Linked DNA regions of Homo sapiens: region 2 is linked to region 1. Evidence: fine-mapped expression QTL. A gene starts in region 1. The other region holds a variant in brackets. All regions are shown on one strand. Distances are between the middles of the regions. Region 1 holds the start of ALKBH3 (alkB homolog 3, alpha-ketoglutarate dependent dioxygenase). Region 2 overlaps TSPAN18 (tetraspanin 18).

Region 1 (5,378 bases):
AAACCAGGGGAAAGTCTGTTCTCAGCACCTTCTACTGAGCAAGGGCCAATAAAGCCCACTTGGAGATGATCTCTATGACATGTAGAAACTAACTGGTAAAGTCAACAGAAGATACTGAAAGGTTTGAGGGTGTGGACTAAATATGAGGAACATTAAAGACCCACCCTTAGCTCACCATCAACAAAATCGGACAAAATATCAGCCACATTTTAAACAATTCCTTGACGTCAATTGAAATGGAAGTCCATTATAAACCAAAAGGATATAAATAAAAGAGAATGAGAGTTGTCCATATCCACACACACACAAAATCCCTACAGATTCTTGCCTGGCTGAGCAATGGCCTGGCTTTTAACAGGGGCAGCCCAGGCTCCCTGAACTCGGGCTCGCCGTCTTTTTTCCTCCATGTTGACCAAAAAGGCTTCTGCTCCGAGCTTTCAGAAGATTTTGTTCCTGTTTCAAACTACTCCATGGTATCTGTTTATTAAAACAAAACAAAACAGTGCTTTTAGTTAGGATTGTGAACAATTACTCCTAAGGCATAATTAATTTCAGGCAGAAGACTCTCAATGGCAATAGAGCTTCCATGTAAAATCAGTTTATGTCATCACAACATTTCATTCAAGAAGCCTAGTCATTTGGGGCTGCTGGCTTTAGCATTCACCTTTTGTAATCTTACCATAGTACTTTTGTTTCTTTCACAAGAAAGTGCATTTTAAGAAATTCTAAAATTAGGACCTATTATAAACCACATTCCTCTTAATAGTCCCCAAGAGTAGAATATAAGGAAACTGTACTATTCCCATTTTCACCTACATGGACATTGAGAAATCGGCTAAGACTGTTTCCAAGCATATATTCCATTATCACTGGCTGCATCAAACTTCCCTGGAAGTTTGTTCAAAATACCTATGGCCCACCTTCAGAAAATCTGATTTAGGATGGATACAGGTATTTGTCTTTATAACAAGCAGTGTAAGATTTGACACAATGCAGGTATGTATGTGGACGGTAAAGTTCAATGATGCACCCAAAGCCACTCAGGAAATCAACAACAGACAGATTAACATTCAACTTATATTAAACTCCTGTCTCCAGCTAACGGATAAATCCACCTCATAATGGCTAATAATACTAATTTGACAGTTGTACCAGTAAAAGCTTAGCCTACAGCAAATGCAGAAGCACGTACAGCTACCAAAACAACAAGGAAATTCAAGCCACATGTTCCACATCTGTAATCTATTTCTTTATGCTTCTACCTAAGAAAGCTTCACACCTCAAGTTCTCAAAGGTAAAAGCTCGTTTTATATTAATAGCTTGCTTAGACTATAGATTCCCAGGTCCCATCTCCCACCTCTTCTGATTCAGTAGAGCTGAGCCAGGCCCAGGAATCTGTGTGTTTAACAAGTTCCCCCAGATGATAAGCATGTAATTCATTTCATTTAATAGGTGGAGAGACGCAGAGGCTGCCATCTGCCCAGAAGAGTTAATGACAATCAAATACCAATTCTCCAATCCCAGGAGCTCCCGTTTGACATGTTCTCTCAATTGAGGCCCTAAAAGCGTAACACAATTACCTACAGTCCCCGCAGAGGATACGACTTGCTCACCTTCTTGCTCCATTCACTGGGGAGCCATATGTTATTTGCCAGGGAACAATTGTTGAAAATAGATTCCAGAGCCCCATCCCAGATCTACTCAATTTGTAGAGTCCCAGAATTTGTTAACTAACGCCACCCTCAACCCAGGAATTCTTAATGCACATAAAGCTTGAGAACCAGTGCTGTAAAATACAAGGACTCTGGCGCCAGCCAGAACTCGCTTTGAATCCAGATCTGTCACTTCCCAGCTGCATGGCCCATGGCAAATGACTTCACCTTTCTGAGCCCCAGTTTTTCCTCAGTAAACAGGGCAGTCACTTTCCGCACGGTTGAGGTGCAGACTAAGCGAGCTCCGCAGGTGGAAGAGCTTGGTCGTGGATAAGGGCACTTCCTTTTCCTAATTTAGATCCTTCTCTTTAAGGAGGCCTAGAATGAGGCCCCGGAGGTCGCCCAGGAAGAGACTTCAGGGGTGGTACTCGCACCCCCAGCCCCGCGCACCCAGCAGTAAGTCAGGAAGGCGCACTTGCGGGCGGAGCCGGGCGCGCCCGTGCAAACCCGGTAGGACTTGGGGCAGCCCTCGCAGCCCCTGACCCACTCCGCAGTCTGTGATCGGAACCTTAAGAGTGAAGCACCGACTCCAGCAACTCCCAATCACAGGCCGCGGCATCAGGCACTTCCTCTCGACGTTACGCAGCGCCGCCACTACTTCCGGTGCGCAGTCCTCAGTCCGGGTAGTCCCACATCCCCCGCGCCTGGAGGGCCTAATCACCGAAGGTGCTGATGAGGGGATATGTGTTGCAGCGGACAGGGATTGAGAGTGCAGGGGAGCGGTGTGAAGGGGTCGGGGTTTGGCAAAGGTGGAAGTGAAGGCGTGTCTCCTACGTGAGTTCCTCGAAACTGGAGATGTCCAAGCATCGGCATCTTTGTGGCAGAAAGAGTGACCGGGTCCCTGTGGGACTAGATAAAGGGAGAGGAGTTTGGGGGACCTGGTTATAATGTGTTAGGCAAAAGGATTTGCATTTTATCCTAAAAACCACGGAGAGCCTGAAATGAGCCTCCTTTGTGTTCCTATTGCAGCCTGTGCACACCTCCGAACACAGCATTTACAGCAGGGCGTAGGACCACGCCTTAATTCACCTTGGCTCTCTCCAGTGCTAAGCAAATTTGCTTGAGTGAACAGACCTACATTTTGGCCCAGACACCACCACTTACTAGTTGTATAATCTAGGGCAAGTACTCTGCCTCTTTTTAAAATGGGTATCGCTCTTTTTGGGAGGATTAAGTGAGATAATGCATTTAAAGAATATAGCACAATGCCTGGAACACAACAAAAACTCAAAAAATGAAAAAGAGCTCACCCCATTTGAGCTCATGAGAAACATCTTTAAAATGGTCATGTTAAACCATGTACTTTACAGTATGAAAATAGCAAAAGTAGCACTGAATTGACTGTTTTATGCAAGTCATTCTCTAAGATCCGCCAAAGTATAGTCACTGTGGAAATCTTTAAAATAAGCCTGATATGAGTGTTTACCTTCAGGAAGCTCATTATAGGTACACCTCATCAATGTGTACCTATATTGTTGCTACTATCAAATCCATTTTCACAGCACTCATTATTATTTGTTATACTTTGTGACACTGAAGGAAAAAAATGATTTATCCTAGACCTGAAAGGAGAGAAAATGCTAAGGCCACACTACAGTTTTTTTCCCCCATCAACTAATTTGTCAATGTCTGCTTCTGGCTCAGGAACTTTGGCTGTATCTTCTAAAATATGTTATTTCTTTCTTTTCAATGATTATAGTTTTGGAACAGGAACAAAGAAGTCTGGATTGAGGAGTTCCTAAAAGTAGTGATTGACACCTCTTCAGCCTCTACGTAGTGTATTTCTCAAAGATCAATCCATGATTTACTTGCATCTGAAATTACTGCTTTTTTTTTGTTTAACAGAATCACCTGCGTTTTTAACAAGCACCCAAGTGATTCTGGTGCACAAAAATTTTGAAAACCTCTAGGACATATGTAGGATGACAAATTGTTCTGGTTTGTATGGGCCTGAGGAGTTTCCCAAGACACAGGACTTTAAGTGCTAAAGCCAGGACAGTCCTGGGCAAACTGAGATGGTTGGTTACCCTAGACGATGCGAGTATATAGTATTAGATGTTCTTAATGGTCTTGGCATCCTCATTAGGGTCTTGACTTTCTTATTTCTATTTGAAGTGTTTGAGTTTTTATCAGGAGGTGGTGGTAGAGACCATGGGAGAAGGAATGAAGGCGAAGTGTGTTGCCAATTATCAACCTATTGAGTCTCCATTCCAAACCCACCCTTCACTACCCTGTTTGCAATATTGGAAGGTTTCTCCCTTGCCTTTTGGTTCAATGGACAGTGAGCTTCATCAGTGGAGGGTACTGGAGGAACTTTAGAGGAGGAAGGGGCTCTTTTTTCTGGTTCCAGTGTGCTCCTCTCAGCTGGCTCTTTAGTGCACAGTGGCCCACAGTGTTTGACTACTCCCTGTGGGCTGAATTACCAGGTTAGTTTCTCTTCTGAAAGTTAAGGCATCAATTGGGAAGGAATGGAATCCCAAAATTTGAAATAAGCACTCTGCTTAGACCCAGATAACTGACAGTCTTGAACACCCATGGCACCCTGAGCCTTCCTTGGCAGTGGAAGTAGCTTGTCCTCCTAAGTCTGAGGAGACTAGTCATTCTTTGCTTGAAGACACTGCTAAGCCCTCAGCTGGGGCAGATGACTTCAAAAGGGAAGCTCATTCTCTACAAGACCCAGCAGAATTTACTTCCCCTTCTTCTGCCTCATTGCCACTAGACCCTAACTAGGTTCAAACCTCATTAATGCTCCAGGTAGGCTGCTACACACTATGATCTAGGATAAAACAGCTTGCACGCTGAAAGAACTATACTAATTACACGTACTTTGCTAATGTATGGAATGTGTGGAAGTGGATTCTAACTGTTTTAAACTAAGGAGGGCAGTATATAGTACTATATCAGGCCAATTATATGGAGGCATTTACTAGAGTGCATTTACAGACATTGTGTTGACTCATGCAACTGGAAATGACTCTAACAGCTTATTTGGTGGATTTATTGAAGATTTAACTCAACAGTAGTCTATGGTTAATCCTACTGAGATGCCAAGGCACGATGTAGAGGCGGGAACCCAAAGACTGAGAAGGGTAGAAATGTTGGACTGAATTTATCAAATGTGACCCTGACCCACGTGCAATAGACACAAACACAAAAACTATATCCTACAACAAGATCCAGAAGATGCTCCTTTTTCTAAAGCATTGAGAAATACTTTAGACAAGGGAGCACTTGCATCCTTGGAAAGCTCTGTGGTTGCTCTCCTTTGCAGGCCAGGTGTGATCATGGAAGATGCCACCATTGAGTTGGGTCCCCTGGTTTTACTGGAGATGATGAGGCCAAGTGGCAGCACTTAATTATTAAAGGTAAGGACATTGATCCAATACAGAAGCCAGGACATACCAGTAATCAGAATATGTTGGTCTATAAGGATCTTTGGTAGTGGCCATGGTGTCCCTAGGAATGAAACAGATGGGCAGCCTACTAGAGAATTGTTTGATCTATCTAACAGAAAAAAAGTCTATGTCTAGTAGCCAAAAACCTTACCTGGCCACACTGGATAGACATATCTCTCACCTAGTTTCCAGACAAGTCATATCACGACCCCAAACCTCTTGATTGACAGGGAAGCCACATCTCTTGGAGGAAGGACCCTGCACCATTGTC
Region 2 (5,378 bases), 900 kb before region 1:
TAAAGGGCTGATCTCACTTGACATGACCTGGGGTAAACTGAGAACACAGCCATGGAGTGGGTGGGGAGGAATGGTTGAGGAGGAACATGCGCACCTAGAAGGAAACGGAGCACAATGGAGGCCTCTCCCTTGCCAAAAAGGGCTGTGGGGGTCAATCCTGGGGCAGGCTCCCAGGACAGATACATGTGGCCTGGGGCTCTTTCAGGATCCCCAGTGGCCACAGCTCCTCACTTGGCTCAGCAGGACCTGGGTCCTGGCTGTGGCTCTTACTGCATAGACCGAGCCTAATGGCATCTAACCATCCTGGGAGGATGCCCGGTGTGTGGGCCCAGAGACCAAGACTAATGTCCCCAGAGATCCCCAGGACCTCCAGCCACTGGACAGCTGGCTGCACTGGGTGCCATCTATCTGGAAGAATCAAGACAGCCCTGCCCTTGGTGTCAGCTGACCTCAACACCTGAGGTTCTAAGAACCACAGACTGCCAGGACTGTCAGCTTCAGGAGGCCAGGTCTCAGCTGCCAGGATCACCTGTGTATCCCAGGGCCCCACCTGGCACCAGCCAGAGTAAGTGCACACACGCTTAATGGAAAGACTAAATAAATGCGGGTATTAACAAATGCTGGCTGGCTAGCACTGGGAAAGTCCTCAGAGACCAAGTGAGCCATCCCTCTCCCCATTTTACAGGTAGAGAAACTGAGACACAAAGAGATTTCCTCCATTGCAAATTCATTGATGGGGCTACCCTAAGGTCCAGCCACCCACCTACTAGAAGGCCCTTCACCTTCCTTCTAGAAGGCCAGCTGGAATCAATAGATAGTGCCTGCCTAGCTTGTTTTCCAGAGGATTCTGGAACCAACAAAAGTGCTGCAATTGATTGGTGATGTCTGCGGGGAAAAAGAGAGGGAGGAGTGACAGACCAGAGACCTCCCATTTACACCTCTTGGCCCCAAGGAAAGGGGAGATGAGGGAGAAACTCCCCTCTCCCCATAAGAGGCTACTATTTGCCAACTCAGGCCCTTAAACAAGAGGTGTGCTCCTTCTGGCTAGCTACACAAGTTGCACCATCCTGGGCAATCTCTCCCCTCTCCCCACCTTCCTTCCCCACCTCAGAACTAGAAAGAACCCAGCCCAGCCCCCATTTCTAGTTCTACCTCCTTCTTCCTCCCATGGGTGCTCTAACCACACCAGAAGACTAACTGCCCCACCCCCCACCTGGAGCATAATTCCCATCTGCTCAACCTCTCCAAGGGTTCTCCTGTGCTCTACCCCCTAGGGTATCCTTTCTGTTGGGGGGAAAAATCCTTTAAGAGGCACCTTCTCTCCTGAGCCAGCTTGCCCCAGAGCCCCGCAGACAGAACCCACACATGTGGTGCCTACCTGGGTATCCCTAGTCCCTGAACCAGGGCTTGGCATACAGTTAGCGCTCAATAACTGCATGGTAAATTAAATTGGCACGTCTACCCGGACACCCTCCTGGAGCTGGCATAAAGACTACAAGGAGTTGCAAGAAAGAAAAGGGGGGGAGGTGGGAGGCAGGCTTCAGGGAACCACAGTGTGATCTATTAACAGTGGGAGAGGAGAGAGAATGAATTCATTTCCTCCCTGTAGTAATTTGCCTGTAAATATTCACAAACCATGCAATTTCTCTCAGCCTTCCCATTAAAGACAAATGCATAAATAAACCAGCCCTACCCAGGGGCTTTGCACACAGGCTGTTGTTCCTCTCCTAAAATAATAGGGTGACTATTCACTTAGCTGCAACCTCCCCATCCCCACAGAATTCCGGAGGGGTCCTGGGAAGTGGGTGAGCTGGAGAACAAGGCAGCAGCTTGGCATAAGTAGGTGCTGGTGACCGGGAGCTGAAGCAGAGTTGCTTGCAGGACCCAGGAGGTGGCTGAGCCAGCAGCCCAGAGGCCAGATGAGGTGGCCTCACCTTGGCAGGGTGTCCTCCCCACCCCCAACCCAATCCCCCATAAAGGGTTCAGAGGTCACACATAGGTCTCTTCACTCCATGGATCCCTTGATATGGAAAAAAACAAACACCTCTTGAGATGCTAGAAATGTATGACATATGGGGGAGCACAAAAGTTCCCAAATAGGGAAGCTATTTGAGGGCCAGCATCCCCCAGGCAGGGTACCCTACTTCAGGGGCCATGGCAGGGCAGAAGTCTCCCATCTAGGTCCGCTCCTAAGCTACCCTCAGGTCTCTCTTAACATCTTTCTTTAGAACCAGGCCTGGGGAAGCACCCAGAGAGGGGTAAAGTGCCAGACAGTGCAGGAAGCCAGCTTGTGAGAGGGGGTATCTTTCTCCTCCCCAGGCTGCCCATGCAGGCTCCTGGGGCACCAAAAGGGAGCTTGGGTCCCAAACCCAATCCCTTTAAAACACTCAGAATATAAGCCAAATCTAGAGAAGCATGGTGAAACTAGACACACTCAACCAGGTCCTAGGATGACAATGGCCAGCCCTGACCCAGCACTTCCTCAGCTACCTTCCCTGGAATCCTCATGGCAGCCCTAGGAGGCAGGTTTCGATCATTATCCCCACTTTATAGACGGGGAACTGAGGCCCAGACTGTAGTCACACGGAGAGTCGGGGGCAGAGACAGGGCTCAAACCCAGACATTCCAGCTGCAAGTTCTGACTGTAAAACCACCAACACTCAGAAGAAGGACGGCAGAGCAGAAAGAAGCTGGACACAGGGTCCCAGCACTGGTATGTTGATTTCTTCTTCAGGAGAGGTGCTATTTTCCCTTTAAATATATGACGGCTGTGGTCTGCAGCCCACCCACATCCTCACCCTTAACCCCAGCAGTAGCTCTGTAGGGAAAGGTTATCGTGCCCAATTCACAGATAAAGAAACCAAGGCTCGTGAAGCTTAATGGTCTCCCAGCCAGCAAGTGAGAACCAGGATTTAAATCAGGGCCAATACCACAGCTGTCTCTGCTGGCTTCAGTCCCAGCCCCTCCACCAGCCAGATGTGACTCGGG[C/A]CAATCTTTCCCCAAGTGGACCTCAGTTTCTACATCTATACAGTGGTCTTACTAGTTCCTTTCCTGAGTCCCGGCCCAGGGTGGCTGGGCAGATAGAATGAGAAGACAGCGAATGTGAAGGCCACTGCAGAGCACACCAGCCTGCACTGCAGGCTGTAAAGCCCAATAACTGGGCCACTCGGTGAAGACTGACATTTACAACAGTGTGCCCAGACGCCCCACAGGATCCTCTGCCAGCAGAGAGATTCAATTATGGTCATTATGGTGCACTTAGGAAAACCAGGGAGCAGCTAATACATTTTAGAAAGATTGGCAACAACAGAGGTTGAATCAAAACGAGTTTTCTACTTAACCCTCAGTTAAACAGAAAATCCATTTAACCACAAGGCAACACCCTGTCTTCCCAGCCTCCAATCACTTTTATAAAAAAATCGTCTGCCACTTAGCTTTATATTTTTATCACCCTGAAAGCTGCCTTGGAATGAAAAATAAATTCATTGATGGAGAGAAAGATGTCATCGACCTCTATAGGTTAGCAGCCTGGAGCAACATCCTCAAGCCCTTGCTCCCTCCAGCGTGGCAAGAACACAATCCTTGTTTCCATCCCTGCCAAAGATGCTGGCGGACGCTGGAGAAAGCAGCCCCAGAGGCCCAAGAGGAGTGCAAATGTACACCTCCCACCCCCGCCACTAGAGGGAGCAAACCAAACCTTTGCAGTCACCGGAGGCTCCCAGAAGGAGGCTGGCAATGAAACGTGCCTGGAGAGGACCTATAGGGATTCGGTGACCTCCAAGTACGCTAAGCTGCAGAGCAGTCCAGAAGTGTGGGCAGGAACAGGAGCGATTCAAGTTAGGAAGAGTGTTCCCAACAAATGGGGAGAGGAACATATTAGCCAGATAGTTCTCCCTATTATTAAGTAAAGCAGCATTGACTACACACGTGCAAAAAGATACTCCAGGTACGGGGTTCCCAGATAAAATACAGGATGCCCAGTGAAGTGTGAATTTCAGATAAACAACAAATAATCTTTCAGTGATTCTTCCTAAATAGTACATGGAACAAATATTGCTTGGGGCAGATTTATGCTAAAAATTGAGTCATTGTCTATAGGAAGTCCAGATTTAGCTGGGCATCCTTTAATTTTATTTGCTGTACCTGGCGACCCCTCCCAGGAGGTATGCAGGTGACAGCAGACACTAGACACAGCTGAGTGTCCAACAGTAGGGGCCCTCCAGCCCTGTGATGCCCAGGAAGGAATCTCACAAACTGTAAGGCCAGGAGAGATGGGGAAAAAAAGCAGGAAGCCCAACTGAACGGACTTTCTGGTGTCAACTATTGAACACATGCCTGAGTGTGAACAAAAGCAGGAAACGAAGGAGGCTCTGGTCCTAAGAGAGGAAGTGAATGATTTCTTTTCCCTTCATTTTCCAAGCTCTGAATTGTTTTATTGTCTTAACAAGAACAGCCACACACACACAACCAAAGTGCTCAACTTTTCTTATCTTTTGAGATCAACCTGGTTGTTCTATCAGGTGGTGAGTCCTTCGAACTCAGGGAGTGGGAGTTTTTCATCTCTGAACCCCAGTGGATGCCTAGTGAATGGAGGAAAGAAAAAAAGAAGAAAGGGAGGGAAATAAGGAGGGAAGAAGGGAGGATGAAGGAGGCTCTGTCCATGCAAAAGCCAAGAGCTGGGAGGTCCCCAATTGCAAGGTGACTTCTGAGGACCACAGGGACCTCCAGGCAGAAGGAGCCAACTCTGTCACCCCAGGTCTCCTTGCTACCTCTCCTGAATAGAGAGGTTTTGAGGTCAGGAGCCTGGATGCTATCTGGACAGCAGTCAGCCCAAAGCCTGGCCCCAGGCCTGTGGGCCACCTGCCATCACTTCCTCTGCATTTACTAAGAGAAGCTGCCCAGCATGGGGACACACTGTGAGATGCAGGAATGAGCCTGTCTGAGGAGCTTCCCCCAGGGACAGAAAGCAGATACCACACCCCTGGGCTCTGCCCCCTCCTTCTCCCGTGGGACATGCCTGCCTGCCTCTTGGTTCAAGTTCAGTTTAAACAGATGTTCTGTTCCTAAGAAGCCCTGTCTTTGAAGTCCAGGAGAAAAATCTCAGCTCCAAAGGGACCTTTCCTACTGAAGAGACTCTCTGGGGAGTCTCGGCAGAAATAAAAAACAAAACCCCTGGATCCTTATCTCCTGGTATTTATGAGATTTTTAATTAGAACAGCTGCCTCCATGGGCTACACTGCTGAAAGGGAAAGGGAAGGAGAGAGAGGGGCTGAGGGTGGGAGTCCGACTGAGGAGCACAGGACCGGGAGGGAGGCAGCCTCGCAGGCTCCAAACTGCCTCTGAGATGAAGCTTTTAGTGCCCAGCTCTCCATAACCCC

What was found. PIP is the estimated chance that this variant, and not a neighbour inherited with it, causes the effect.
Region 2: its variant is fine-mapped to the expression of ALKBH3 in cerebellar hemisphere (GTEx, PIP above 0.99).

The regions. Positions count from the first base shown.
Region 1 is chr11:43,877,682-43,883,059 of GRCh38, reverse strand. It overlaps ALKBH3 (alkB homolog 3, alpha-ketoglutarate dependent dioxygenase), which reads right to left and starts at 2,229. Exons shown (of 10, transcript NM_139178.4): 1 at 1,881-2,229; 2 at 329-477. The coding sequence starts at 407. LOC105376644 (a long non-coding RNA gene) reads left to right here and starts at 2,323. Exons shown (of 3, transcript XR_001748200.2): 1 at 2,323-2,378; 2 at 4,984-5,077. RefSeq lists an enhancer at 2,244-2,443.
Region 2 is chr11:44,773,893-44,779,270 of GRCh38, reverse strand. The region is part of intron 2 of TSPAN18 (tetraspanin 18); the gene reads right to left. Among named protein-coding and RNA genes, the nearest start is that of TSPAN18-AS1, 40 kb to the right of the region's middle. RefSeq lists enhancers at 1,393-1,892, 1,893-2,394, 4,359-5,133. The variant C/A (reference allele first, on the strand shown) is at 2,989.